4 linked regions of the Homo sapiens genome follow. The protein of the gene in region 4 interacts with the protein of the main gene of each other region in a biochemical or structural test. Each region holds a gene or a part of one and is shown on either strand. Other genes may lie near its edges.

Region 1 (7,652 bases), on a different chromosome or scaffold from region 4:
CTAATAAATTTAGGAGGAATGTTAGAATTAGAAATTCATTATTTTGCAACGTCTAATGAAATACTGGATTGAGTCACAATTAATGGATGCTAAAATAATCAGGTGATGTTTGATGAAAAACGTAATGTAGGAATCAGGCTGACACCACCTCAACCCATGAGCAATATTTCGTCATTAAAATGCAAGTATCAGACATATGTGCCTCATGATGTGATGTAATAGGAAATACACGGCAACTACCACAAAGTATGCTTACCTAAAATATAGAACCTCAATCTAATAAAAATCCTAAATCTACCTATTTGCAGAAATAGGAGTAATATCACAAGGAAGTAATCAGCTAAATCTAGAATATGGGACATTCCGTAGTACAAATGGCCTAGTTTCTACAGTAAATCTATAGTATGAAGGGTGAGATGCTGGTAAAATTGAGTAAAAGGGACTTAAGAAATATGACAATTTGTGATGGTATTAGGTGGGGCGGGGTGGAGGAAGAAACAACTAAGTGCAATGTATGGACTTGTTTAGATCTTGAATTGAATAAAGCAACTGTAAACAGAATCTTTGATATAATCGAAAAAAATTTAATACTTGGAGGATGATGGATAGTATTGAGATTTTTCTTAATTTTGTGTGATAATGGCATGGTGGATATGATTTTTGAAAGTTCTTATCAGATGTGCATATTGAAGTTGGGATATGCTTTATAATACTTTAGCAAAAAAAGTGGGGGACATAGTAGGGAGGAGGGTAGGGAAGAATTGTCTATCAACAAATGTTGATAATTGTTGAAGCTGATAACTGTTGAACTCATTAGGGCTGAGGTTGATTATACTATTATCTCTCTTTTTGCATATGTTTAACTTTTCCCACAAGAAAATGTTACAGGAAAAATTATTTAGCTTTCTCCAACCTGGGTTGGTATAAGTCACTGATTGTGACTATCCCAAAAGTTGGTTCAACATTAAGGTAATGTTTGTTAGGAAAAAAAATTAGATCGACACGTTATTTAGTATCCCAGGTTTTTGAGCATTTATTTAAAAAATTCGCTATAATGAGAGATGATTATAAATTTTTGTTATATTTCTGAGATGATCAATTTTAACAGGATTGGTGGTAATTTTTCAATCATAAACTGATAAAGTTTGATGACTGATAAATCGCCCCAATATATAGCAAATCTATTCAATTATTTTGTTTTCATAAGGGAACAACCTTGGTGGAAAGTACAGCTGTCTCCATGTACAAGGAGAAGCACATAGCTCACGTGTGCATCTGGCAGAACCCCCAGTACAGAGACAAGCAGGTGCTGTTTTCCAATGACACCTACTTGTGTGTGTCCTAATACTATAGTTAGAAAATGGCTCAGATTTTTGAGTTGCTTTTCCCAGAACTCAAAGATTGTCTTCCTGTTTATCTTGGTGGAATGCCTATGCTATACTTGTGATTTTTCTGTTCTCTGTAACCTATTAAAACAAGATTGTCACAGATGGGGAAACAAGAGGTCATTAGTTAACAATCAGATGTTCGATTTCTTGAGCAGAAAAGATACTCTGTTGTGTTTTTAAAAACATTTTTAAAGGAGAAATAGGGCTACTCCTTGGAAGGCAGATTGTTGTTCAGTGGGCTTTCCTCAAGAGTCAACACAGTCGTTTCTAAATTCATTTCCTCCTTCAATTCTGTTCTTGTAGTTAACATAAGCTTTGCCTCTTTTAGTTCTTGTCAGTTCACAGTGGCTACTTCTTTATAGCTTAACTAAATACTGCCAGAAGAGCAAAGGGAAGCCAAATAGGTGGTCAATTAGCTTTGTCTAAGTTGGTATGATATGGAGAGGAAAGCACTGTTACTTTAATTCATTCTTCAGTTTCTAGAACAGTTGCTTTTGATTAGGTTAGGGGCAGAAAAACATTTGTAATAATTAATGGCTTTGAGAGACACAAGGCTTTGTTTGCCCCAGAGTATTAGTTAACCCACCTAGTGCTCCTAATCATACAATATTAAGGATTGGGAGGGACATTCATTGCCTCACTCTCTATTTGTTTCACCTTCTGTAAAATTGGTAGAATAATAGTACCCACTTCATAGCATTGTATGATGATTAAATTGGTTAATATTTTTAAAATGCTTAGAACACAGATTGGGCACATAACAGCAAGCACCACATGTGTTTATAAGATAAATTCCTTTGTGTTGCCTTCCGTTAAAGTTTAAATAAGTAAATAAATAAATAAATACTTGCATGACATTTTGAAGTCTCTCTATAACATCTGAGTAAGTGGCGGCTGCGACAATGCTACTGGAGTTCCAGAATCGTGTTGGTGACAAGATTGTTCACCAGCATATGGTGTGGTGAAAACTCACTAATTTGGAATTAGTTCAGATTATTAAGCCTGAATAGGTGAAAATCCTGAAATCAAGGATCTTTGGAACTATTTGAAATCAGTATTTTATATTTTCCTGTTGTATTCATTAAAGTGTTGCAAGTGTTCTATTTGATGGATTAAGTATATTTAGGATATACATGTTCAATTTGTGATTTTGTATACTTAATTGGAACAAGAAAGCTAATAAAGGTTTTGATATGGACATCTATTCTTTTAAGTAAACTTCAATGAAAATATATGAGTAGAGCATATAGAGATGTAAATAATTTGTGGACACACCACAGACTGAAATAGCAAATTTAAAAGAAATTGTTGGAAGAATCAAGTGTTTGTGGAATGAGTCCTCCTAGTAAAGTTCCTGCTCTTGTGAATAATTAAGCCTCATGTATAATTACTATAGCAAAAGGAAGCCTAAGAAGTATTAGACTCTACTTGTATTTAAATTACATTTTACATAATTTATGTGTATGAAAAATGTTTTAAATGCTTATTTTCGTAAGCCATGAGATAGCTCCTTTATATTTTAAGAATTTCTGAATTAATTTGCTTGGATTTTATTAGTGCAAATGGCAGAGCTAGCAATTCCTTTTTCTGTGTTCCCATTCCATCCTATTCATCCCTCTTTTAGGAAACTCTGAACTCTGGATTGTCCTTGTTTACATACCTGCCTCCTGCATTGGACTATGTGTCTCTGAGTGTAGTATGACTAATTCATTTGTTTGTCAAGGACTCTCAATGCATTTGTTGAACAGCCTAATTAGTAATGTCTGCAACAATGACATTTTACTGTATTTAATAAAGCTCTGGGAAAGTAGGATACACATAAGACAGGTCTAGGTCTAAATTCTTTACAGAAACTTGGATTTTTAGTTCGGTTTGAAATTTGAAGATGTGAGTATATTTATCTCAGTTTCCCAAAGGACAAGCTAATTGGAATTATCATCCTCTTTCACTTGATTGGATCCCCAGAATGCCATTTACGCATGCAGCAGGATTTTATAACAGTTTTAAATTCTGTATATTTGATGAAGAGGTTTTATATTTTTGGATTCAAGCCTCTTTTTAAACTTCTACAATATGGTTTACAATAATTCCTTATATCCTGCTTTTGAAATACATATTACAACTTTTTAAGTTTGGAAGGCTATATTTCAAGGACTGAAGTTACAGTATACTCAAGTGATACACAAGCCTAGCACCCCACTTTCCACATAGTGTTCGATAAAGATTGATAAACTCGAAATCACAGACCTTTTAATTCTTAAGACAAATAGCAGCAGAAAGAAACATCTTTGGCTTATTTCTGGTAAGGTTTTTATGCTCTGTAAAACAAAGAATTGTATTCATCCGCGCAGCACAGATTCTATTAAAAATAAATGTGAGAGTCGTTAATGTAGTACTGCTCATTTACCATCAAAATTCACTTTTCAGGAATAATCCCATCAGTTTAAATTGGATATTGGAATGAGCATTGATTACATTTAACTTGGTAGCCCAAAATTTCTTCATGGGGTTTTGAACTCGGCGGGATTTCAAAGGTTTTAAAAATGAGTTTTTGATTTTTTTTAAAACCCTCAAATTTCATTACCTTTAAACTAGGTCGAAACGGGGCGCAAGAGATTGGATTAACACCATAGTAATACTTATTTTGTTCTTAACCATTTCAGGGCTTCTTGAAATAGAGGCTGTATGGTGTAATGGAAAAAACAGCCTTGGAATCTGGGAGCCTGATTCCTGGATTCAGTCCCAGTTTTGCGTGACCTTGGGCAAGTTACTTTACTTCTCTGAATTTCCGTTTCCTCCTCTGCAAAATGAGGATCGCAATAGCCACCTTGCAACCTTGACTGGAGCGAGCCTCGCACACCCCGCGCCGGCCTGGAGGAAGAGCAGCCATGATTACGCCGCCTTCGCTCCGCTACCCGCTTGCGGCTGGCGCCCTCCTCCAGCAGGTGTAGGCGCTGCCGCGCTGCCCCACGCCTTTCCGCCGCTCGCGGGCCTGCGCCTCGGCGTCCCCGAGGAGGCCGCTGCGGGCTGAGGTAGCGCACCGGCCTCTCGGCGTCCCAGTCCGGTCCCGGGCGGAGGGAAAGCGGGCGACCCACCTCCGAGGCAGAAGCCGAGGCCCGGCCCCGCCGAGTGCGGAGGAGCGCAGGCAGCCCCCGCCCCTCGGCCCTCCCCCCGGCCCTCCCGGCCCTCCCTCCGCCCCCTCCGCCCTCGCGCGCCGCCCGCCCGGGTCGCCGCGGGGCCGTGGTGTACGTGCAGAGCGCGCAGAGCGAGTGGCGCCCGTATGCCCTGCGCTCCTCCACAGCCTGGGCCGGGCCGCCCGGGACGCTGAGGCGGCGGCGGCGGCCGAGGGGGCCGGTCTTGCGCTCCCCAGGCCCGCGCGCCTGAGCCCAGGTTGCCATTCGCCGCACAGGCCCTATTCTCTCAGCCCTCGGCGGCGATGAGGCGCTGAGGCGGCTGCCGGCGCTGCGCCGGAGCTTAGGACTCGGAAGCGGCCGGGCCGAGGGCGTGGGGTGCCGGCCTCCCTGAGGCGAGGGTAGCGGGTGCATGGCGCAGTAACGGCCCCTATCTCTCTCCCCGCTCCCCAGCCTCGGGCGAGGCCGTCCGGCCGCTACCCCTCCTGCTCGGCCGCCGCAGTCGCCGTCGCCGCCGCCGCCGCCGCCATGGCCAATGACAGCGGCGGGCCCGGCGGGCCGAGCCCGAGCGAGCGAGACCGGCAGTACTGCGAGCTGTGCGGGAAGATGGAGAACCTGCTGCGCTGCAGCCGCTGCCGCAGCTCCTTCTACTGCTGCAAGGAGCACCAGCGTCAGGACTGGAAGAAGCACAAGCTCGTGTGCCAGGGCAGCGAGGGCGCCCTCGGCCACGGAGTGGGCCCACACCAGCATTCCGGCCCCGCGCCGCCGGCTGCAGTGCCGCCGCCCAGGGCCGGGGCCCGGGAGCCCAGGAAGGCAGCGGCGCGCCGGGACAACGCCTCCGGGGACGCGGCCAAGGGAAAAGTAAAGGCCAAGCCCCCGGCCGACCCAGCGGCGGCCGCGTCGCCGTGTCGTGCGGCCGCCGGCGGCCAGGGCTCGGCGGTGGCTGCCGAAGCCGAGCCCGGCAAGGAGGAGCCGCCGGCCCGCTCATCGCTGTTCCAGGAGAAGGCGAACCTGTACCCCCCAAGCAACACGCCCGGGGATGCGCTGAGCCCCGGCGGCGGCCTGCGGCCCAACGGGCAGACGAAGCCCCTGCCGGCGCTGAAGCTGGCGCTCGAGTACATCGTGCCGTGCATGAACAAGCACGGCATCTGTGTGGTGGACGACTTCCTCGGCAAGGAGACCGGACAGCAGATCGGCGACGAGGTGCGCGCCCTGCACGACACCGGGAAGTTCACGGACGGGCAGCTGGTCAGCCAGAAGAGTGACTCGTCCAAGGACATCCGAGGCGATAAGATCACCTGGATCGAGGGCAAGGAGCCCGGCTGCGAAACCATTGGGCTGCTCATGAGCAGCATGGACGACCTGATACGCCACTGTAACGGGAAGCTGGGCAGCTACAAAATCAATGGCCGGACGAAAGTAAGTGTGTGCTGCGGGTTTGTGCTGGACAGGCCCTTCTCGGCGGGCAGCCCCTGCCTGCGACTGAAACTGCCTAGGCTGAGAAGCAGCATTCCTCTATATAGAAGGGACTCGCTCTTTCTTGTGTAGCTCCCCGTAAGGAAGACGGACAGAATTTGTAGTAGCTGTTTATCTAGTTAGCCCCTTTGTATCCACTGTTTTCCACTTACTGCCCGTTCACAAACTTCTCCGGCTAATTGCATGGTTTTTTGACTCAACGTAGGCGCTTTAACTTTCCTATTTTCTTTTTTCCATTCCACTATTGGTCACAATTCAAACCTTAGTGGCGTTTTAGCCACCCAGTGAAGGGGTGTTAGAGTACCACCCAAAGCAAGTCCTGGTTCTGCATCTGCCTTGTGTTTGCATAAGCTGTTAAATTTCCTATGGTGTCTGAACCACTCATCACATTTCGATTGAGAGTCAAACGCTGTGTTCAGTTAGGAATTTGCCGGCTGACCGCAAAAAGGTACATTTAAAATAAGCATTTAGTCGAAAGACTCTGTATTCAGGAAGAGCTTGGCTACTCCCCTCCCCCTGTTATAGCTCTTATCCCTCACCCTGTTCCTACTGTTTTGAAACCCGTTACAAAAAGGGGAAAGAAGTATTTCCGTCTTCAGGCCTCTCAGTGTAGGTAGGCTACATTTTTAGCACCAGTTTCCTTTATTTGCTTTGTTAATGTAATCCTTCTGTTGAAAACTGTTTTGTAACTTCCTGGAAAACAAAACAAAACAAAACAACAACACGGAATTGGCGCAGGAGGGCTCGTTTTATCCTCCCAATTTGGTGAGATCTTTTTGTTTTCTCTTTACTATTGCGGTTTTTCCTCCACAGATTTCTTCACTTCTTACCTAGTCTATTCCCTCTTTCCTCCCTCATGATAAACAGTAGACTCTTTCGTCCTTAACCAACTCTCTTGCAGCTCTTTTTCATTTTACTTCTCAGATCTTGATCTTTTCTTTGTGGCTGCTCCCAGGCCACCCTCCTCCACCATCAGTCTCTGATTTTGTGGGTTTTGAGAGATTGACCTGGGAGAGCATCACAGTTGCATGTTTGTACACACACGCTGACTCTAACTAGTGGTTTTTCTGTATGTGTGTGTCAGATCATCTACTTTGACAGTCATTACATGTGATTCTCAGGCTGCCCGAAAGACTGAACATAGGCAGTGAGAAAGTTATAAACGTGAACATTTTGTGGGGAAAAATACAATGTGGAGTCTAATTTACCTATTGCCACTTCATTGCTGGATGAAGGCACAAGTCTTAATTTCTTGTAGTCTTAAAAAGGAACAGTTGAATAATATTAAACTGGAAGGAAAAGGGGGATCTGATGAAATTTCAGCGTTGGTCTTTCACTAGATTTTCATTGATAAAATTTTTAAGAAAGTTGTCAGGGCACAACTTTAAGAAATTGTCACATCTGAACATAAAGTCCTGAGCTCCAGAGCAGGAAAGAAATTAGTTTGAGACAATAGGGCTGTGAAGACTGACCAAAGTATATAGTTGGGACATAAGCTTAAATTGGATTCTTGAAGAAGATGATGTCCCAAATCTTTCTTGATCTGCTTTCCTTAGTTAATTTAGCTTTCCAAGTTAAGCTGAGACCTCTTTTCTCTTTTGTCTTCCTGCTTTCACCTGTCCTTAGAGAAGGGACAGCAGACAGCCTGGCTCTTAGA
Region 2 (7,020 bases), on a different chromosome or scaffold from region 4:
GTGGACTGAATGATAACCTTTTCTTTCTTCATATAGGCTGATCAGCTGACCGAAGAACAGATTGCTGGTAAGTTGACAACTCCAAGGAGTCCCCAGAAGGCCAGAACTAGGCACTGACTCAGTTTTGGTGACTCCTCTGTTCCTCCCCGCTACAGTCTGGGCAGTTTTCTAAGAATTTATTTAAATAAGAACAGTAAGCAGAAACACTGAGGTCAGATGTTATTCTTGCCAGTACTTTATAGATGAGGTGAAAGGAAGTAAAACTAAGGATGCCCACATGTTAAACTCTGGAGAATTTGACCATGTTTCACAATGTGCAAAGTTTGCGTATGATTAATTGTACTGAGCCTGCTACTCAGCGGTTTAGTTTACAATTCTTATGCCATGGGTCTTTCAGTAATCTGCCACGAAAGCTTGTGCTCGCTATCCTAAAATAAATGGAAATGGGTGAATATGAGTGTTAGGACCACTGTAGTAATTGGGAAGAAAGTTACATTAGTTAAACTCTGTTGCCCAGGCTGGTCTCTAACTCCTGGGCTCAAGCAATCCTCCTGCCTCAGCCTCCTGAGTAGCTGGGACTACAGGCATGTGCCACCACGTCTGGCAGATTTTAGCTTTTTAATATTCCTGGAGGACTTGTTTTGAGACTGTTTCTCGTTAGGAAACCAGGAATGCTTCTGAAATATTCTAAAAGTCATGTGGAGAGAGTTTACCTGGGAATGTACATTTCTAGTAACCATTTTATTTGTTATGAAACAAGGGATTCTTATGGCTTTAGAAATGTAACAGGAAGGGATTTGAAGGGGGCACATGGACCAATCTTGTCAGATTGGATTTAGTCCCTTGAACCTGGGAGGCAGGGGTTGTAGTGAGCTGAGATTGCACCACTGCACTCCAATCTCGGTGACAGAGCGAGACTCCATTGTTTAAAAAAAAAAAAAAAGATTGGATTTAGGACTAATTTAAGCATGTTCCAGCTTAGCCGCCTTGAAACCTTTGGGAATATTGTGGTGTGTGGCACTGTTTATTGGGAGCAGTGTTTGCTTTATGGGCTGCTGTATGAAGGCCAGTCCAACAGGACTATTGTGGTCATTATTTCAGTAGATAAAGACCAGACTTCTGATACGTTGCACAACTTGAATGGCTGGCTTTGGCAAGCCCCCGGCAAGTGTGTATTGTGACTGGGTTGGATAAAGACATTGATTCTAACGGGTCAACTTTTGTTTTCAGAATTCAAGGAAGCCTTCTCCCTATTTGATAAAGATGGCGATGGCACCATCACAACAAAGGAACTTGGAACTGTCATGAGGTCACTGGGTCAGAACCCAACAGAAGCTGAATTGCAGGATATGATCAATGAAGTGGATGCTGATGGTAAGAGCTTTAAAACCATGAATGAGGGCCATTGTTGTGTAATTCAAGTTCAGACATGTTACAGGATTGTCTTTCAGGTCCCCAGAGCAAAGCAAATGTGCAAAGATCCTTTCTGTGGTTGCCCCAGGGCCATTGACAATTAAAATAGAAGATGATGGGCCTTGCGTCCATCCTGCTTAGTGTCTAGAATGTTTTCTGCATGGGATCACTATTGTTTTCTTCCTGCTTGGTGCGACCTAGAGCTCAAATCTATTTTTTTTTTTTTTTTTGGAGACGGAGTCTCGCCCTGTCGCCCAGGCTGGAGTGGCACTGGCGCGATCTCGGCTCACTGCAACCTCTGCCTCTTGGGTTCCAGCGATTCTCCTGCGTCAGCCTTCTGAGTAGCTGGAATTACAGGCGTGTGTCGCCACGCCCAGTTAGTGTTTTGTATCTTTAGTAGAGATGGGGTTTCACCATGTTGGCCAGGCTGGTCTCAAACTCCTGACCTCGTGATCCGCCCTCCCCGGCCTCCCAAAGTGCTGGGATTACAGGCGTGAACCACTGCTCCTGGCCGAGCTCAAAGCTTTTATCAACTGGCCCATGAGTCTGCACTGAGTCTTGAGGGGGGAGGTGAAATTAAATAGCCATAGAAAGTGCTTTTTAACAAACTTACTGTGTTTAAAGAGGAGGAGGAACCCCCAGATGAAGTAGGTGACGAGCACTCTTAGAAGTTACCATAAAAGTGAGTACAGTGTGAGCTGTAGATGTGTTTGCTGCAGAGGAGCATGTGAGGTTTGGAGGCGGATGTGTGGTGACTCCAGGGGATAGATTTGCAGAACCTAACGGAAAGGGAAGCTGTAAGGTGCAGGGCCAGAGGGAACCAGCAGTAACCCTGATAGCGGTCTGTCATCTGTTCCTCTCGACTCTACAGCAGCGGACAACAGAACTTTGATTGCTGATTTCCATCAGTAAGCAGGCTTTGAAGCACACTTCCCCACCCCTAAAAAAAAACCACGTATTTTGGTAAATCCTATATATATTCTAATGTACTGTATGACAGTATAGAACATGATTTTTAAAAGATGAGTTGGGAGGAGAAAAGGATAAAAGAAAAAATAAAAGAAGCATTAAGAATAAACAATTCGGATCTAGATTTTACTTTCTAGATGATTGACTCGAGGGTGGTGTAGTAAAATCGCTTGTCTGGTCACAAACATTTGGCAGCAGAGCTTTTGATTAGGTTCTTTGACAAAGCCTTCAGCACGTTAGAGTGGTTTTCACTAATAGTGTTTTGGAAAGAAAAGGTTGTCCATAGTTCTCTAGTTTGCTAAGATGATCAGCTACCCAGGAACGTGGAGTAACTTCCTCTTGTTTGTGGGAGCCCCGGGAATCTGTGCCTGGGGAGGGGAGAAGTCTGTTAGGCTCTTGGATTGTGTGGAAGAAGGAGAAGTTGTGCCAGGCTACAGAATCCTGTGTTTGCACTGAGAAAACAGGATGGTACCTGACCTTCTCTGCATGGCTGTGAGATAGCTTAAAATAATTTCTTTTGTTTTTGATGAATATGAACAATATCTTAAAATTTTTGAGGCTAAAAAAGTCTTGAAGGGATCCCTGAGGTATTTTCTTTGAAAGGTACTGGTGAAAATGAGTAACTTAACCTAAGGGTTTTTCTTTCTAATTTTATTTCCATTTAGTTCAATGACACTGTTAGTCTGGAGTGCTTGTCTTTGGGGGTATTCATCTCTTAGTTTTAAAGAGGAGTTGTTTGGAGTACTGGCCGTAGAACAGATTGTTCTGACAGTTCCCTAAGTGTTACTAGTCTGAGCTGTGAGAATGCTCCTGAGCTTTTCCCTTAATGGGAAATAAAGATACTGAGTTGGAAGAAAACAGGTGGCTAACCATCATAGCGTGGCCAAGAAATGATCCTGGAGAAGACTTGGTAAGACTTCATGGCCCATGCATGGCATAACAGAATCAATGTTCCTCTCTCATAATCTTTTCTCCTCTGAAACACTTTATACACTTAACCTGCAGCTCAGTTCTAGGCCTTTTTTGTGTTACTGCTGTCACTAACCAAGGCAGAGTGAGACCTGAGTGATTTCCCTAACTCAGGGATGGCAGTCGGGGGCGCTTTCTTCCCTCGGAGTGGAAAGATTCAGCCTGCGGAGTGGTGTATGCTATTTTTCTCTTGAACTGTACAGCCCTTCATGACCCTTCCATGGGCTTGAATCCAGATGTGCAGTTTCCTTTGTATAATTAAATACTATCCTGGGCACTGATGATGAGTTTGAAATTATGTGAAATTGCCCTGTGAAGTGTTTGAACGTTTTAGACCTGCAGATGATTGAACCTAGTAAGATAGTCTGCCCCTTTGTCCTAGTACATGTTTACCGTTCCGTACAGTGGTTCTGAAATGATTACTGCAGAGCAGCGTTAATGGAGTGCTTACTTTACATGAGCTTTTTGTTTTTTAATTCGAGGTAATGGCACCATTGACTTCCCCGAATTTTTGACTATGATGGCTAGAAAAATGAAAGATACAGATAGTGAAGAAGAAATCCGTGAGGCATTCCGAGTCTTTGACAAGGTAATCCAGCATCTACATAGCAGATGGTACTTAAGTATGGCTTCTTCCGCTTTCACTTCTAAAAGCTATAATAATGTTATAGACAGAAGACTTAAATCTAACTGCCTGAGCCTCTGATCTCACTTTCAAAAATCCTCCTTATGGTAACCGTATCAGGGGAGGGTAGGCATAATAAATAGGAATTTTGGACCATGTTTCTTGACTGTTACTTTGAATTGTTGTGAGCTTTTGCAAATCCTGTTTTCTGCATTAGCTGTTTGCATGTATTTAGTAGGTTAGAGGTGGGAACTAGAGATCAGAGAATTGTTTATGGCAGCAGAGTTAGCAGTAACTTGAGAGGGCATAGCTAAGTCAAAGACCTACTTCCCCACACTACATCATTAGCAATAACAATTGCTGAATGTTCACAGGATGGCAATGGTTATATCAGTGCAGCAGAACTACGTCACGTCATGACAAACTTAGGAGAAAAACTAACAGATGAAGAAGTAGATGAAATGATCAGAGAAGCAGATATTGATGGAGACGGACAAGTCAACTATGAAGGTAAAACTAAATTCTCTGAGCTCAGTGTTTCATAGTCTTACCTTTAGATCTGTAAGCAAGCCAACTGCTTCACTAGACAGCCTTTGACTTTATTTTATGTACAGTAAAGATGTTGTGTTCATTAAAGCTGTTTTCAAAGATAACCAAAAGTTACTATTATATTTGTCTTTTCAGAATTCGTACAGATGATGACTGCAAAATGAAGACCTACTTTCAACTCCTTTTTCCCCCCTCTAGAAGAATCAAATTGAATCTTTTACTTACCTCTTGCAAAAAAAAGAAAAAAGAAAAAAGTTCATTTATTCATTCTGTTTCTATATAGCAAAACTGAATGTCAAAAGTACCTTCTGTCCACACACACAAAATCTGCATGTATTGGTTGGTGGTCCTGTCCCCTAAAGATCAAGCTACACATCAGTTTTACAATATAAATACTTGTACTACCTTAATGATAAGGACTCCTTAAAGTTCCATTTGCTAATGATTAATACACTGTTTGGGCTGGCCAGTTTTTCATGCATGCAGCTTGACGATTGAGCACAGTCAGGCCTTTGTATTAAAAATGAAAAATGAAAAAACAAATTCAAAACCTATTCAAATGGGTTCTAGTTCAATTTGTTTAGTATAAATTGTCATAGCTGGTTTACTGAAAACAAACACATTTAAAATTGGTTTACCTCAGGATGACGTGCAGAAAAATGGGTGAAGGATAAACCGTTGAGACGTGGCCCCACTGGTAGGATGGTCCTCTTGTACTTCGTGTGCTCCGACCCATGGTGACGATGACACACCCTGGTGGCATGCCCGTGTATGTTGGTTTAGCGTTGTCTGCATTGTTCTAGAGTGAAACAGGTGTCAGGCTGTCACTGTTCACACAAATTTTTAATAAGAAACATTTACCAAGGGAGCATCTTTGGACTCTCTGTTTTTAAAACCTTCTGAACCATGACTTGGAGCCGGCAGAGTAGGCTGTGGCTGTGGACTTCAGCACAACCATCAACATTGCTGTTCAAAGAAATTACAGTTTACGTCCATTCCAAGTTGTAAATGCTAGTCTTTTTTTTTTTTTTTCCAATAAAAAGACCATTAACTTAAAGTGGTGTTAAATGCTTTGTAAAGCTGAGATCTAAATGGGGACAAGGCAGGTGGAGGGGAGGCCAGTGTACATGTAAATGCCCACAGCCCAGCATTGGGTTTCCCTCCCAAGGCCCCAGCACCAACCTCTGAGCCCAAGACCTTGCCTGAAAACAAGCAGATACCGATTGCTTCATCCTATTTATGGACATGTAGGTCTAGTTGCATTTTCACTGGGGGGAGGGGGGAAGGTGAATTATGGTAACTTTTAATGATCTATTCAGGCAGTAGAGCTCTTAAGGAAAAAAAAAAACCCACTTTCTCTCAAGCATGTATTTAGGGGTTGTTCTCAATTGTGCTGCTGATTACCTGTCTTATGTAACTACTTGAGACCATCTGCAAGAGACATGATTTAGTGTGTCTGTAATTCAATCTTCGCTGTGTGTGGTAGAAGCAGTAGTCACTTTTGTAAGCCAGTCTCTTCATGCCTAAAAGACACTACCAGTCACCTTTGATTCGCGACTTTTAATTTATGATTATACTTAGCCTCCTCCTCCTTTTTTTTTTTTTCCCAAGTTGACTTGACTTTGCTTTTTTCCCCCCAAGTAGAACTAATGCTAGCTTCCAGCTTGAAAGTAAAACTCCAGTGTGGAGTGAATTTTGTGTCTAATTATAAACCTGTAACCAAAACTCAGACATCTGGTACTGGTCTTTGCATTGAGATTGGTCCCTGTAAAACCCCCTTTAAAAGCATATTGCATTTAGTACAGAGCTCTTTTTTGAAATGAAGGCTGGAGATGTGCATTTTTCACGGTGTTAACTGGTTGTATCTTATTAGCAAGGAGATTGGGGTTTTGAGTGTTTGCGTGGGTGGTTTCAATTTGCCAGGGAACAGTGGCAGGCTGCTAGCAAGGCAGTGAGAAGCTCTTGGCAGCCAAATGGGTGCATTCAGGGCTGATTTATAGAGACCCTTGGCTTCTCCTTCTCCTACTCCCTGTCTTTCTGGCATTTTGTAGCTTGTTAGATTTTCTGCCAGAGGGGTGGGTCAGAGCAGTGGAGGGGAGACATCGCCCATGTGCTTCTGCTACTGGTCCTTGGGCTGGGTGGTTGGTAGAGGAGATGTTGACACTATGAGCTAAGGGTTGGCTTTTGTAATTACCTGAATCTGAAAGGAATGCCTAAGGTTACCTTGGGGTTTCTCTTCTGGTGAGATAGGGTTCCTGGTTTGAGTAAGTTAATGTCCTGGATATTTCTTGTGGCAGGGGGTGGTCAAAGAGCCTGATTGCTGACCCAGTCTCAGGCCTGTGGTCGATGACCTCTCGGTAGTTTCAAAGGGGGCTGGAGGGGGATATTTGACTTGTTTTTTCGAAATGTAGCCTTCTAACCCTCAAGTCTTTAGAAGCTGGGTGGACTCTTAGTGGTCCTGCAGCGTATCCTAAAAGACTACCTTTGAAACAGGA
Region 3 (7,929 bases), on a different chromosome or scaffold from region 4:
AAAGCATGACTGGGGCTTATATAATGCTTGCTGGCAATGTATGCAAACCATTTGAAAGAGCATGGCACTACCTACCACACAAATTTATAATGTATAAGATTCTTGAAATTGGAAACTGGCATTTTGGATTGCTAATCTAAGCCTATGAGAAGTTATTATTATTATTATTATTATTATTATTATTATTATTTTTGTGAGACAGAGTCTTGCTCTGTTTCCAGGCTGGAGTGCAGTGGCGCGATCTTGGCTCCCTGCAACCTCTGACTTCCTGGTTCAAGTGATTCTCCTGCCTAGCCTCTCGAGTAGCTGGGATTACAGGCACTTGCCACCATGCCCAGCTAATTTTTGTAGTTTTAGTAAAGACAGGGTTTCACCATGTTGGCCAGGATGGTCTCGATCTCCTGACCTCGTGATCCATCCACCTCGGCCTCCCAAAGTGCTGGGATTACAGGCATGAGCCACTGCACCCGGCTGAGAAGTTATTTTTTAAGCAGTTTTCTTTCTTTCTTTCTTTCTTTCTTTTTTTTGAGATGGAGTCTCACTCTCTCACCCATGCTGGAGTGCAGTGGCATGATCTTGGCTCACTGCAATCTCTGCCTCCCGGGTTCAAGCAATTCTCCTGTTTCAGCCTCCTGAGTAGCTGGGACTACAGGTCCCCGCCACCACGCCTGGCTAATTTTTGTATTTTTAGTAGAGACGGGGTTCCACCATATTGGTCAGCCTGGTCTTGAATTCCTGACCTCAGGTGATCTGCCCACCTCTGCCTCCCAAAGTGCTGGGATTACAGCCGTGAGCCACTGCGCTCGGCCTCATTTTTCTTTTATGCAAACTATATGGACTACTTGTTTTTATTCTCTCTAGTCAGCTCATTTTATTTATGGATTAATTTCCATTTCAGGTTGGGGCCATGGTTTACTCTTCCATCTGACCTATTAGTTATCAATATCCTCAGTTAATAGTCTCATTCTACCCACATTTTCAATAAAAAGTTTACTAGCTGGGAAGATTTGATACACACACATGATTTTTTTTTTCTTTTCTTTTCTTTTTTTTTTTGAGACAGGGTATCAGTCTGTCACCCAGGCTGCAGTGCAGTGGTGTGATCACAGCTCACTACAGCCTCCACCTCCTGGGCTCAAGTGATCGTCCTATCTCAGCCTTCAGAGTAGATGGGACTACAGGCACACACCACCATGCCCCGCTAATTTTTGTATTTTTTGTGGAGATAGAGTTTTGTCATGTTGTGCAGGCTGGTCTCAAACTCTTGGCCTCAAGCAATACACCCACCGCAGCCTCCCAAAGTGCTGAGATTACAGGCATGAGCAACCACACCTGGCCGATACATACCTATATTAAACATTAGTATGTTCATGTTAGAATAATGTACCTTTTGAATTTCATAAACTTGGAGAATATTTATATTGATGATGGATGAAAGAACTTTCTTGGATGGATGAAGAGAGTAACGCTGTGAAACAACCAGCAGGTGGCGAAAACTGGCAATCAAAAGCTTTTTGTTTGGTGGCCTGGGGAATGAAGACGGAAAGAAAACACAGGCCATTCAGACTCTTGATACAATCTCCATTCCCTGCATCTTGTTTTTTTTCTCTTCCTGGTGCCACGCTACTTGTAGAATCCAACCAGGTAAAGCTGCCAAAAGGGTCATCCATTGGCTCTTACAAGTAGAAAACATCTTGGAAAGTGAAAAGTCCACTGTGCATATGTTTGTAAGGTTGTTGGAAGGTCTCAGGCATAGATCTAGGATTCAAATCCAGTTACTCCTGCCTCAGGCTGGTGTTCCCTCCCCCACCTCAGCATTGCCCAAAGACGAGTAGTCAATGTCACATACTTCCTGGGAATACTTGCCCTTATGCTTTAAAATGGAATCTAATAAACATGGAATCTGAACGCAGGAATGGTTTCACTCTTTCATTTGAAAGAGTATCTAGAACATTCCCAGGGAAAATATAACCCCTAGCCAAAGACTGCAATACAGACCTGTCTCAAGACTGATTATAGCCAAGATGCCACATAAGGAATCAGTCTGGGAAAATCCATAGAGTGAGGCTCTGTGGGAGCAAAGGAAGACGAAAATCAGTCAGCTTTTCTTTCTCTGGAAGTAGGGGATCCGTTTCCTTCTGGCTGCCCCCTTTGCAGAAGTACAGTTTCTTTTGCAGGTTTGTCCTATCATTTCCTCACTCATATGCTGAGTATTAGGAGCTTGAAGCCTTTCAATTCCTCTTAGGTAATTTTGGGGCTTTAAAATACGCTTTCAAGATTTCTAAACCATACTGTTGTGCAATTGGTATGAATTTATGTGAGAACATTTATTCTAGGTCAATCTATACCCAGTGTCTATCCAGACCAAAACACCTCCCACGCGCATAAAAGGGACTCTGTCCCAACCATCAGAAGGGCAAGAAGGAGGATCTCCTTTCATCCCCTCTTGCCTGGATAAGAAATTTGTACCCAGGCCCCCATTCCTATGTGAGAGAAGTTGGCTTGTTGGGCTGATGGGATACAATAAATGAAGAAATAAAATAAAAACACCCAAGAGAGATGGCAGTGCGTATAGTCCCAGCTATTCATGAGGCTGAGGTGGGAGAATCCTTCGAGCCCAGAAGTTCGAGTCCAGCCTGGGCAACATAGCAAAAGCCATCTCTTAAAAAAAAAAAAAAAAGGCCAACTAAGTAAAAATTAAAAAAATCATAATTTGGTGTGCTTTTCTGGCTTTTTAAAGAATGTTTTGATTTTAGAGTAGGAATGAGACAAAATAAAGATGTCAGGCAGGGCACAGTGGCTCATGTCTGTAATCCCAGCACTTTGGGAGGCTGAGGCAGGCGGATAACGAGGTCAGGAGTTCGAGACCAGCCTGGCCAGTATGGCGAAACCCCGTCTCTACTAAAAATACAAAAATTAGCAGAGCGTAGTGGCGTGCACGTGTAATCCCAGCTACTCAGGAGGCTGAGGCAGAATTGCTTGAGCCTGGGAGGCAGAGGTTGCAGTGAGCTGAGATCGCACCACTGCACACCAGCCTCCAAGATACAACAGAGCAAGACTCTGTCTCAAAAAAAAAAAAAAAGTCATAGCATATTTGTACACATTGTAGTACTCATTTGTCATCTTTCTTGACCCCAATAATCCAGTGTCCCTATATATTTGCACTCGAGCCCTATTAAGTAAGCCGCTGTGCTTCTAGAAGACCTTTTTCTTTTCTTGGTGCTTTGTCAAAGACTCTTGGAGATAAAAATACACACGTGCAACTTGTTTGTCCTCTTGTCCTTTTTTGCTAGGGGCTATTCATGCTGATTAATTTAAAACTGTCTGCTTGCGCGTACACACGTCTGCGAGTGTGAATGTGTATGTGTGTATCTATGTACCTCATTTGAGAAAGTGCGGCCAACTAGGATTGGCTACGAGGCAAAGGTGGAGACCTTTAGGAGCCCACCCACCCCAGCGTTAGGACGGTGGGCCTGAAAGTTACTATATGGAAGTCCTCATCGTGTAGCACTAAACCAGTGTAAAAGGTGTTAGGGACAGAGGGAAAACATTGACTTAAACTGTCGTAAAGCCCTTGATAAACCCCTTCCCTGGAGCGCTGAGTTCTGCATGGCCTGGGCCACGGACTAGGTGTTCAGGTGGACACGGGCGGGGATGCGCGTGCGTGTGTAGTGCGCGGACACCTAGGAAGCTACTTGAAAGTAAACACCACGCTCGGGGCGTCCCTAGACATTGCTTAAAACGTGCAGAGTCACCTGTCTTCACAGCAGGGCAGCGCTGAGGTCCCACTGCTGGGGGCGGTGGGGGGCGGCATTGGCCTGGGTCTTCCCCCGGCGGCCGAGCGCCGGTAACACAACGTGTGTGTGTGTAGGCGCGTGTACACACTCTCATACACGGCTAGAAAGGGTCCAGGCGACACACACACTCCCACATACACGGCTAGAAAAGGTCCAGGCGAGACACACACACACACACACACACACACACACACTCCACACACACTCACACGGCCAGAAAGGGTCCAGGCGGTTCCCGGCGCTTTTCCAGCCCTTGTTTTCATGGCGCACCCTCCCGCCAGCCGCCCCCCTCCGCACTCCGTCGTCCGCCCGGCCCGGCCGCGTGCGGTTCCCCGGGAGCCCCCACCCCGTCGCGGACCCCAGCGACCACCAAGTCCGCACGCGGCCTGCCGCAGGCCTGAGCAGAAGGCCCCGCGCACACCCACCGCGCCGCGGCCGCGCGGGAGGCCTGTGCCGCCCGCGCCACCCACTGGCCGGGCCCCGCGGGCGCAGCGGAGCGGGCGGGTGGCCGGCCCGGACGCGCCCTCCCCGGCCGCGGCCCCGCGCGCCATGTGCCCCCGGCGGGACGCGCCACTCCCGGGCCTGCCGCGGCGCCTTTAACCCGGGCCAGGGAGCGGGGCGGAGGGGGCGGTCGGGTGGCTCAGAGGAGGGCTCTTTCTTTCTTCTTTTTTTGAATGAACCGTGTGACGTTACGCACAGGAAACCGGTCGGGCTGTGCAGAGAATGAAGTAAGAGGACAGGCACCACAGCCCCGCTCCCGCCCCCTTCCTCCCGCGCCCGCCCCTCCGCGCCGCCTGCCCGCCCGCCCGCCGCGCTCCCGCCCGCCGCTCTCCGTGGCCCCGCCGCGCTGCCGCCGCCGCCGCTGCCAGCGAAGGTGCCGGGGCTCCGGGCCCTCCCTGCCGGCGGCCGTCAGCGCTCGGAGCGGGCTGCGCGGCGGGAGCTCCGGGAGGCGGCCGTAGCCAGCGCCGCCGCGCAGGACCAGGAGGAGGAGAAAGGGTGCGCAGCCCGGAGGCGGGGTGCGCCGGTGGGGTGCAGCGGAAGAGGGGGTCCAGGGGGGAGAACTTCGTAGCAGTCATCCTTTTTAGGAAAAGAGGGAAAAAATAAAACCCTCCCCCACCACCTCCTTCTCCCCACCCCTCGCCGCACCACACACAGCGCGGGCTTCTAGCGCTCGGCACCGGCGGGCCAGGCGCGTCCTGCCTTCATTTATCCAGCAGCTTTTCGGAAAATGCATTTGCTGTTCGGAGTTTAATCAGAAGAGGATTCCTGCCTCCGTCCCCGGCTCCTTCATCGTCCCCTCTCCCCTGTCTCTCTCCTGGGGAGGCGTGAAGCGGTCCCGTGGATAGAGATTCATGCCTGTGCCCGCGCGTGTGTGCGCGCGTGTAAATTGCCGAGAAGGGGAAAACATCACAGGACTTCTGCGAATACCGGACTGAAAATTGTAATTCATCTGCCGCCGCCGCTGCCTTTTTTTTTTCTCGAGCTCTTGAGATCTCCGGTTGGGATTCCTGCGGATTGACATTTCTGTGAAGCAGAAGTCTGGGAATCGATCTGGAAATCCTCCTAATTTTTACTCCCTCTCCCCGCGACTCCTGATTCATTGGGAAGTTTCAAATCAGCTATAACTGGAGAGTGCTGAAGATTGATGGGATCGTTGCCTTATGCATTTGTTTTGGTTTTACAAAAAGGAAACTTGACAGAGGATCATGCTGTACTTAAAAAATACAAGTAAGTTCTCTGCACAGGAAATTGGTTTAATGTAACTTTCAATGGAAACCTTTGAGATTTTTTACTTAAAGTGCATTCGAGTAAATTTAATTTCCAGGCAGCTTAATACATTCTTTTTAGCCGTGTTACTTGTAGTGTGTATGCCCTGCTTTCACTCAGTGTGTACAGGGAAACGCACCTGATTTTTTACTTATTAGTTTGTTTTTTCTTTAACCTTTCAGCATCACAGAGGAAGTAGACTGATATTAACAATACTTACTAATAATAACGTGCCTCATGAAATAAAGATCCGAAAGGAATTGGAATAAAAATTTCCTGCATCTCATGCCAAGGGGGAAACACCAGAATCAAGTGTTCCGCGTGATTGAAGACACCCCCTCGTCCAAGAATGCAAAGCACATCCAATAAAATAGCTGGATTATAACTCCTCTTCTTTCTCTGGGGGCCGTGGGGTGGGAGCTGGGGCGAGAGGTGCCGTTGGCCCCCGTTGCTTTTCCTCTGGGAAGGATGGCGCACGCTGGGAGAACAGGGTACGATAACCGGGAGATAGTGATGAAGTACATCCATTATAAGCTGTCGCAGAGGGGCTACGAGTGGGATGCGGGAGATGTGGGCGCCGCGCCCCCGGGGGCCGCCCCCGCACCGGGCATCTTCTCCTCCCAGCCCGGGCACACGCCCCATCCAGCCGCATCCCGGGACCCGGTCGCCAGGACCTCGCCGCTGCAGACCCCGGCTGCCCCCGGCGCCGCCGCGGGGCCTGCGCTCAGCCCGGTGCCACCTGTGGTCCACCTGACCCTCCGCCAGGCCGGCGACGACTTCTCCCGCCGCTACCGCCGCGACTTCGCCGAGATGTCCAGCCAGCTGCACCTGACGCCCTTCACCGCGCGGGGACGCTTTGCCACGGTGGTGGAGGAGCTCTTCAGGGACGGGGTGAACTGGGGGAGGATTGTGGCCTTCTTTGAGTTCGGTGGGGTCATGTGTGTGGAGAGCGTCAACCGGGAGATGTCGCCCCTGGTGGACAACATCGCCCTGTGGATGACTGAGTACCTGAACCGGCACCTGCACACCTGGATCCAGGATAACGGAGGCTGGGTAGGTGCACTTGGTGATGTGAGTCTGGGCTGAGGCCACAGGTCCGAGATGCGGGGGTTGGAGTGCGGGTGGGCTCCTGGGGCAATGGGAGGCTGTGGAGCCGGCGAAATAAAATCAGAGTTGTTGCTTCCCGGCGTCCCTACCTCCTCCTCTGGACAAAGCGTTCACTCCCAACCTGACCGATAACGCCTGCCATCTAAAAGTCTTTAACTTGCTTGCTAGTCGTGGAGATCCAAAGATCTAGCGTTTGTAATCCAGTAGGATGTGGTGGTAAATGGTACCCCTTCAGTGTTTCTCAAGCTGAAGGTCCAGGAGTCCCCAGGACCACCGTTTCCTGGCTTGAGCAGCTTGTTGGAACCGGAGGGAGGTTTCAGGGACTGCTTATGAACCAGATACCAGGTTGGGTCTTGACAGTCTGCATCCCAAACAAGCTCCCCTGAAACAAGCCCGTTGTACACTAAAATTGGAGAACAACCCGATTAGAAGAATAGACTCCACAGAAGACCAAGGGCATCATCAATCGGTAAAATTTTCCAAAAGAGGAAAACCAATGTAAGTCTTTTTCCCTGAAAAACTTAGTTGTGTTTGTAAAGAGCTAAGTTGACATTCCAAAGTCCTTGGACTGGAATCTCCAGTGTGTGCCATGTTCCCAGTGGGCGTGATGAGGTGTCCTGAGGAGTATCAGGCTATGGCTTTGCTACCTTGTCAGTGACAGAATTTGCATCGGCTGCATTCTTTGTATTCTATAATTTGTGTATGGTTTACCAGTTTGCTAGAATGTTAGAATCTTTTGTTTTTCACCACTCAGAGTGGACCTAATTTTGTGGTCGGCTGAAAAAAATTTGCATCTAGGTATCTATGTAAAGTGTAGAAGAATTGATTCTTAGCTGTGGATTATCTTACCCTTACTTTAGTTGAAGTGATTGATACCTGTGGCTTTGAAGAACATTTGTGAGATGATCTTTTTCTCGTACTGTGCTAGATAGAGCTTTCATCATTATACCATACAATTGTACTTTTCTGAGATTCTTTGTTGGAGGGGGTTTAGTTCCTAAGAGTCAAGGATTGTAATGGAGATCTATATCTCATATCTAAAATGATGAATTTATGAAAAAGTAATTCTTGTGTGAAGTTTTTTTTTTTTTTACACTTTTTGTTTTAATCTGAAGAGTTATCTTTGAAAAACAGGATGCAATTCAGTGCTTCCTTTTATAGCCTCTTGGGAGAATGACTAATGTCATTATTTTATAGGACCTAACAGGAGCAAAAAGCCTAGAAATTACTGCAAGTGGATTAGATGTCAAGAAGCACA
Region 4 (7,243 bases):
GTGATCTGAGATCTTGCCACTGCACTCCAGCCTAGGCGACAGATTGAGACTCCATCTCAAAAAAAAAAAGGTTCAGTTCACCAGGAAACACAATTGCAACTCTACATGCAGCCAATGATATGGCCTCCAAGTAGAGCAGTCTTGTTTTTTTGTTTTTGTTTTGTTTTGTTTTGTTTTTGAGATCGAGGTCAAGAGTTTGAGACCAGCCTGACCAATACAGTGAAACCCCGTCTCCACGAGAAATGCAAAAATTAGCCAGGCTTGGTGGCTGGTGCCTGTAGTCCCAGCTACTCCAGAGGCTGAGACAGGAGAATTGCTTGAACTTGGGAGGCAGAGGTGGCAGTGAGCCGAGATCGTGCCACTGCACTCCGGCCTGGGCGACAGAGCGAGATTCTGTCCCAAAAAAAAAAAAAAGGGAAAAGCAAATATAAGTAAAATGTTTGCCTGCAAATATCTGTTCAATGAGTGCCAGCCATTATTATTATTGTTGGTGGTGTTATTTTATAGTTTATTTTAGTAGCTTATTAATTTATAATAATAATTATTACTATTATTTTAGAAACAGCGTCTTGCCTTGTTGCTCAGGCTGCAGTGCAGAACTTTGATCATAACTCACTGTAGCCTCGACCTCCTGGGTTCAAGGGATCCCTCCCACCTCAGCCTCCCATTTAGCTGGGACTACATTTTTAAATTTTCTGTAGAGGCCAGGTGTGACGGCTCATGCCTGTAATCCCAGCACTTTGGGAGGCCAAGGCAGGTGGATCACAAGGTCAGAAGTTCAAGACCAGCCTGGCCAACATAGCGGAACCCCCCCATCTCTACTAAAAATACAAAAAATTAGGCAGGCATGGTGGCAGGCGCCTGTAATCCCAGCTACTAGGAAGGCTGAGGCAGGAGAATTGCTTCAACCTGGGAGGCAGAGGTTGCAGTGAGCCGAGATCACACCATTGCACTCCAGCCTCACTAGACTCTGTCTCAAAAAAAAAATTAGTCATGTGTCATGGCAGGCGCCTGTAATCCCAGCTACTTAGGAGGCTGAGGCAGGAGAATCGCTTGAACCTGGGAGTCAGAGGTTGCAGTGAGCCCAGATCGTTCCACTGCACTCTACGTGGGAGACAGAGGGAGACTGTGTCTCCAAATTAATTAATTAATATTCTGTAGAGGCAGGCTCTCACTACGTTACCCAGGCTTAGGTTGCCCAGGCTGGAGTACGGTGACGTGATCTTGGCTCGCTGCAACATCTGCCTCCCGGGTTCAAGCGATTCTCCTGCCTCAACCTCCCAAGTAGCTGGGATTACAGGCATGTGCCACCGCACCCGGCTAATTTCTGTATTTTTCGCAGAGACAGGTTTCACCATGTTGGCCAGGCTGGTCTCGAACTCTTGACTTCAGGTGAACCATCTGCCTCAGCCTCCCAAAGGCTGTTTTTGAGACTGGGTCTTGCTCACTGCAACTTCCACCCCTGGGGTTCAAGCAGTCCTCATGCCTCAGCCACCCCAGTATCTGAGATTACAGGCATGCACCACCATACCCGGCTAATTTTTGTATTTTTAGTAGAGACGGGGTTTCACCATGTTGGCCAGGCTGGTCTAGATTTCCTGACCTCAGGTGATCCACCCACCTCGGCCTCCCAAAGTGCTGGGATTACTGGCATAAGCCACCGCACCCAGCCCTCCAGGTGATTTCTTACATAGCTCTGCTATGCTACCACCTTTAACCTCCCTTCCTTCCTCAGTGATTTCCGTGAGACCCCACCACTACCTTTTGTGGCAGGCACTGTGCAAGCCTCAGAGCTATAACAATGAGAAAGAACAAAGCCTTCCCAGACTTTGGGGCTCTGCCAGTGTAGAGGGCAAGGCAGAGGTAAATCAAAGCAGTGGCTCACGCCTATAATCCCAACAGTTTGGGAGGCCAAAGTGGGAGGATTGCTTGAGCCCAGGAGTTCGAGACCAGCCTGGGCAACATGGGGAAACCCCATCTCTACAAAAAATATAAACATTGGGCCGGGCGCGATGGCTCACGCCTGTAATTTCAGCACTTTGGGAGGCCGAGGTGGGCAGATCACAAGGTCAGGAGATCGAGACTATCCTGGCTAACACGATGAAACGCTGACTCTACTAAAAATACAAAAAATTAGTCGGGCATGGTGGCAGGCGCCTGTAGTCCCAGCTACTTGGGAGGCTGAGGCAGGAGAATGGTGTGAACCTGGGAGGCGGAGCTTGCAGTGAGCCGAGATTGCGCCACTGCACTCTAGCCTGGGCTACACAGCGAGACTCTGTCTCAAAAAAAAAAAAAAAAATTAGCTGGACATGATGGTGCACCTGTGGGCCCAGCTACTCAGGAGGCTGAGGCAGGAGGATTGCGTGAGCCCAGGAGATAGACATGGTTGCAGTGATCTGAGATCGTGCCACTGCACTCCAGCCTGGGTTTCAAAGTAAGACCCTATCTCAAAAAAAAAAAGGCAGAGATATAAGTAAACTAGTTTGGGAAGCCGAGGCAGGCAGATCATGAGGTCAGGAGTTCCAGACCATCCTGGCCAACATGGTGAAACCCTGTCTCTACTAAAAATATACAAATTAGCTGGGCATGGTGGCGGGTGCCTGTAGTCCCAGCTACTCAGGAGGCTGAAGCAGGAGAATCGTTGGAACTTAGGAGGTGGATGTTGCAGTGAGCCGAGATCGCGCCACTGCACTCCAGCCTGGCGACAGAGAGAGACTCTGTCTCAAAAAAAAAAGAGAAAGAAAAAAAAAAAAAAGGCCAGGCACGATGGCTCATGCCTGTAATCTTTGGTACATCGAGGTGGGCGGATCACGTGAGGTCGGGAGTTTGAGACCAGCCTGACCAACATGAAGAAATCCCGTGTCTACTAAAAATACAAAGTTAGCCAGGCATGGTGGTGCATGCCTCTACTCCCAGCTACTTGGAAGGCTGAGGCAGGAGAATCGCTTGAACCTGGGAGGCAGCGGTTGCGGTGAGCTGAGATTGCGCCATTGCACTCCAGCTTGGGCAACAAGAGTGAAACTTCTTCTCAAAAAACAAAAACAAACAAACAAACAAAAAACCCAAGTAAACTAGTTATGAAGTGGACGTTCATCAACTTCATTGTGCCAAGACAGCTAAAGGGGGCACCTGGTCTTGCCTTGGGGAGGTTGGGAGGGCTTCCTGTAGGAGGTAACCTGGGAACTCCAACCTTAGAAGTGATCTCCAAAAAGCCAGTTACCACCTCCATGATAGCTACCTCCAAAAGCTGGTGTCTGACTCATCCATCCATCCATCCATCCATCCATCCATCCATCCATCCACCTACCCATTTATTGAGCTTCTATAGATGCCAGGCATGGTTCAAGGAGGTGCTGGGTACAAATCAGGTAAAAATCTCTGCCAGGATGAAGCAGAGTGAGGGATGGTCCCTCCAACCACAAGCAAAATAATGACAAGATAATTCTGGAAGGAGTAACTGCTAGGAAGGAAATAAAACTGAGTGAAGGAGGGAGAAGTGTCCCGGTTTCAAAACAAGATCCACAAAAACTTAGCTAATCAAGGATGCCACCTTCTTCCCGAGCCATGGGGACCTTATCACCCTCCAGCAGACAGTGCATAGAGGAGGAACTCCTCCCAGTGGCCCTGCTGGCTCAGTCGCCTGCGCAGCAGTAATCGAGCGCCTCCAGTATGCACCAGGCAACCTTCTAGACATTAAACTGTGTGGGGGATGGGAGGGAGGTTTCTGTATGCCTTTGGGCACGTCACTCCTCCTCAGGCCCTCAGGTTCACTTCTGTAACTAAGGCTTCAGGATGGGTCATTCAGCAACCCCAGAGCTGCCCTGCCCGTCAAGCTTGAACTCTTTAAGGAAATAACATTTAGAGTGGACTGTGCCCCCAGCAGCCCCCAAGGTGAGAGTGCATAGATGGGGGTGTTTATCCCCATTTCGCAGATGGTCAGGATGAAGCTCAGAGGAGAGGCAGGAGTCGCACAGGCTGCGCGATACTGACCCGTGTTGGGGTCCAGCCCAGGGTCCCCCGCCCCCGCCCCAGCCCCCGCCCCAGCCCCCGCCCCAGCCCCCGCCCCAGCCCCAGCAGCCGGGAGGCTTCGGTCCCTTTAAGAACGCCCCGCGGGGCCAAGCAGGAAGGGGGAGGTGCCAACGCCCGGGACGGACGTCTGCATGAGCCAACGGGTGCGGCAGTCGCGGCAGCGGCGGCCAATGGGCACGGCAGGGGCGGGGCCAAGCGGCCGAACCTGGTTCCCGAGGCGCGGCGGCCGCGGCTGGGGGCGGGGAGGGGGGCGCAGGACCCCAAGTGGGGGTCCCGGAGCCAGAGGCAAGTGTCCTGGGGTGCTGGGGGCGCCGTGCCGGCCGGGCCGCTGCCCTGGCCTAGGCTGGTCCGGGGGCTAGCGCGCCGGGGGCTGCGGCCGATGGGCGGGGCGAGGGGCCGCGGGGGTGGCGAGCCGGGGGGGCACGGGGGTCGGGGGTGCCCGAGGGGGCGCGGCCGGGCGGGGGTGGCCAGGGATGGGGGTCACTGGGGGCAAAGGGGATCCAGTGGGGGGGTCCCGATGGAGGCGTGCAGGGCCAGGGGCGCCCGAGGCGTGCGGGGGTCGGGTGCCCCAGACTGGTGGCGTCAGACAGGCGTGGGTCGTTGGGGGCCTGGGTCGCGGCTTGACTGAGGGCCCGGCCGGGGCTGTGGGGCGTCAGGAGAGCGTGGGGTGTTATGGGATCGGAAAGGGGGGGGCGTCTGGGGACACTGGAGTGTTTACGGCGAGACGGAGCGGCTGTGGGGGGAGCTGGCCCGTGCTGGGGGCGGTGGTGGTTGGGGTGGGGGGTGGGAGGGGAGGCCGAATTGTGCGGGCGCGGGGAATTATGGGGGTGGGGGCTGGGAGGGTCTCTCAAAGTGGGGCTCCGAGCCCGGGAGGAGCAGGCAGGTGAGGGTTAGGGAGGGGATGCGGCGGGCTGGTTTGATGGCTGTGCCACACTCTTCTGAGCTTGGGGCCTGGGGGACGGAGGGGTTGGTTATTGGTTCAGGAGGTCTGGGGCAAGGAAGAGGCTGTAGAATGTGGTGGGACCTCGACCACTCCTGGAAAGGAGGCTGCTTTGAGGGGGTGGGACCGAGGCCTGATGAGAGGAGGATGGTCTCCTGGGGAAGGATTTGGGCCAGGGTCCCTGATGTTGGGGTTGTGGGGGATAGTGTTAGATTCAGAGTGTGGAAGGAAAAAACGCTTGGGGTTTCTGGGTGATTACAGTTGGTGCTTTTGGGGAGGGTCTCCCCTTTGGAGAAGAGGCTGGAGGTGGGAGGCCCTGGTAAAAGATTCAATTTCCCCCAGTGGCCTTAGAGGCTCTAAAAATGGCTTCCCTAAGGCCTCGGAGGCTGTCCTCTCCACAAAAATCCCAGCACCCTTCGCTCAGCTTATAATCAGGCAAAGCCACAGGGCCTGAAGCCCCAGGTTCAAATCCTCCTTTGGCCTTTGGCTTTCTCTGTGACCTTGGGCAAATGCCTTTGCCCCTCTGGCCTGTTTCCTGTTCTGCAAAATGTTGAGGGGAATCTTCCCTACTTCCTGGAGTATTTGTAAACATTAAATAATAATTAGCTCTAATAATGGCTAACACTATTTGAGCCTGATGCCAAGGGCTTGATGCATGGGTTAATTTCTCCCAACAAGCTGGGGTTGTTGTTACACCCACTGTATAGATGAGGAAACTGAGGCCTGGAGCCCTTGAGTTACACAGAAAGTGATCGGCAGTGTGGGGAATCAGTACAGTGGAGACTTTGAGGGGCTGTGTAGGATTCTGACCCACATCTCTGCCCCCCACTTCCAGGGCCAATTCCTGTCCCCCCAGCAGCATGGCATCGTGTGCTGAACCCTCTGAGCCCTCTGCCCCACTGCCCGCCGGGGTCCCACCGCTCGAGGACTTCGAGGTACTGGATGGGGTTGAGGATGCAGAGGGTGAGGAGGAAGAGGAGGAGGAAGAGGAGGAAGAGGATGACCTGAGTGAGCTGCCACCGCTGGAGGACATGGGACAACCCCCGGCGGAGGAGGCTGAGCAGCCTGGGGCCCTGGCCCGAGAGTTCCTTGCTGCCATGGAGCCCGAGCCCGCCCCAGCCCCGGCCCCAGAAGAGTGGCTGGACATTCTGGGTAAGGAGCAAAGGTGGATCAGGGTGCCCTTGGCCCTGGCCCTCTCGTCCCCTGAGCCTCATTTCCCCATCTGTGCTGTGAGGGTTGGAAGTCACGTGGTCACCACCGTGATCACCAGCCAGAGGCAACTACTGGAGATGCTTCACATTGATGTACTCTATCCACTGACTCACACACATGCACAATGTGCTGTGTCCCCGTTTCCCAGATCTGCTAACAGTGGCTCAGAGAGGCTGAGTCACCTGCCCAGAGCCACACAGCCAGCACGCCAGGCGCTGGCAGCTCCTAACCCCATCAATGCATCTTTTTTTGGCATTTGTCTGACACATGCTTGGGCTCTGAAAAATGTGTCCTGAGTGCACGCCAGCCTGGGCAACACAGCGAGACCCCAACTTCCAAAACAAAAAATGTGTTCTGGGGTCAAGTGGATCAGAGGAATGTTATTTTGTTCAGCCTTCTGGTTGGTTCACAGTAGTGATAGTATTGTAAATGCTCAGAGCAATCCTACAAGAAGAAAACTACATGAGCCCCCACATGTTCCCCCCAACATACCCCATCACAGCAACTGAAAACAAGAGAAATGTTAGTTTTCTGTGGAAGACGTCTTGCTACTAGTATAGTACTGATATCTAATATACCAAATAATGCTGGTGCCCATGCAAATAATAAGATATCATTACCACTATCAATTGTAATAACAATACTGTAGCAATAGTTTCCAATCATATTGACACTGATGGAACAGAAATATTACTAAATATCACCACCACTACTGATAAAAATCTTACTACTTTTTTTTTTTTTTTTGAGACAGAGTCTGACTCTGTCACCCAGGTTGGAATGCAGTGGTGCGATCTCAGTTCACTGCAACCTCCGCCTCCCAGGTTCAAGCGATTCTTCTGCCTCAGCCTCCTGAGTAGCTGGGACTACAGGTGCCCACCTCTATGCCTGGCTGATTTTTGTATTTTTAGTAGAGACAGGGTTTCACCACATTGGCCAGGCTGGTCTCGAACTCCTGACCTCAGGTGATCCACCTGCCTTGGCCTCCTAAAGTGCTGAGATTACAGGTGTGAGCCAGCACACCTGGCCCCTAATTTTTGTATTTTTAGTGGAGACAGGGTC

What was found.
Region 1: the proteins of FKBP8 (region 4) and EGLN1 form a complex in vitro, tested with the Homo sapiens proteins (2 studies listed by BioGRID, with this or other methods).
Region 2: the proteins of FKBP8 (region 4) and CALM1 form a complex in vitro, tested with the Homo sapiens proteins (3 studies listed by BioGRID, with this or other methods).
Region 3: the proteins of FKBP8 (region 4) and BCL2 form a complex in vitro, tested with the Homo sapiens proteins (4 studies listed by BioGRID, with this or other methods).

What each region holds. Positions count from the first base shown.
Region 1 is NC_000001.11:231,419,284-231,426,935, reverse strand, and holds the start of EGLN1 (egl nine homolog 1), read left to right. Parts: upstream 1-4,648; 5' UTR 4,649-5,047; coding exon 5,048-5,938; intron 5,939-7,652. UniProt on the Homo sapiens protein: Cellular oxygen sensor that catalyzes, under normoxic conditions, the post-translational formation of 4-hydroxyproline in hypoxia-inducible factor (HIF) alpha proteins.
Region 2 is NC_000014.9:90,400,029-90,407,048, forward strand, and holds part of CALM1 (calmodulin-1), read left to right. Parts: intron 1-36; coding exon 37-67; intron 68-1,230; coding exon 1,231-1,374; intron 1,375-3,833; coding exon 3,834-3,940; intron 3,941-4,350; coding exon 4,351-4,486; intron 4,487-4,660; coding exon 4,661-4,689; 3' UTR 4,690-7,020. UniProt on the Homo sapiens protein: Calmodulin acts as part of a calcium signal transduction pathway by mediating the control of a large number of enzymes, ion channels, aquaporins and other proteins through calcium-binding. Calcium-binding is required for the activation of calmodulin.
Region 3 is NC_000018.10:63,316,770-63,324,698, reverse strand, and holds the start of BCL2 (apoptosis regulator Bcl-2), read left to right. Parts: upstream 1-4,929; 5' UTR 4,930-5,525; exon of another isoform or gene 5,526-5,746; 5' UTR 5,747-6,032; coding exon 6,033-6,617; coding exon of another isoform or gene 6,618-6,650; exon of another isoform or gene 6,651-6,745; intron 6,746-7,929. UniProt on the Homo sapiens protein: Suppresses apoptosis in a variety of cell systems including factor-dependent lymphohematopoietic and neural cells. Regulates cell death by controlling the mitochondrial membrane permeability. Appears to function in a feedback loop system with caspases.
Region 4 is NC_000019.10:18,540,557-18,547,799, reverse strand, and holds the start of FKBP8 (peptidyl-prolyl cis-trans isomerase FKBP8), read left to right. Parts: upstream 1-4,226; 5' UTR 4,227-4,314; intron 4,315-5,804; 5' UTR 5,805-5,829; coding exon 5,830-6,121; intron 6,122-7,243. UniProt on the Homo sapiens protein: Constitutively inactive PPiase, which becomes active when bound to calmodulin and calcium. Seems to act as a chaperone for BCL2, targets it to the mitochondria and modulates its phosphorylation state.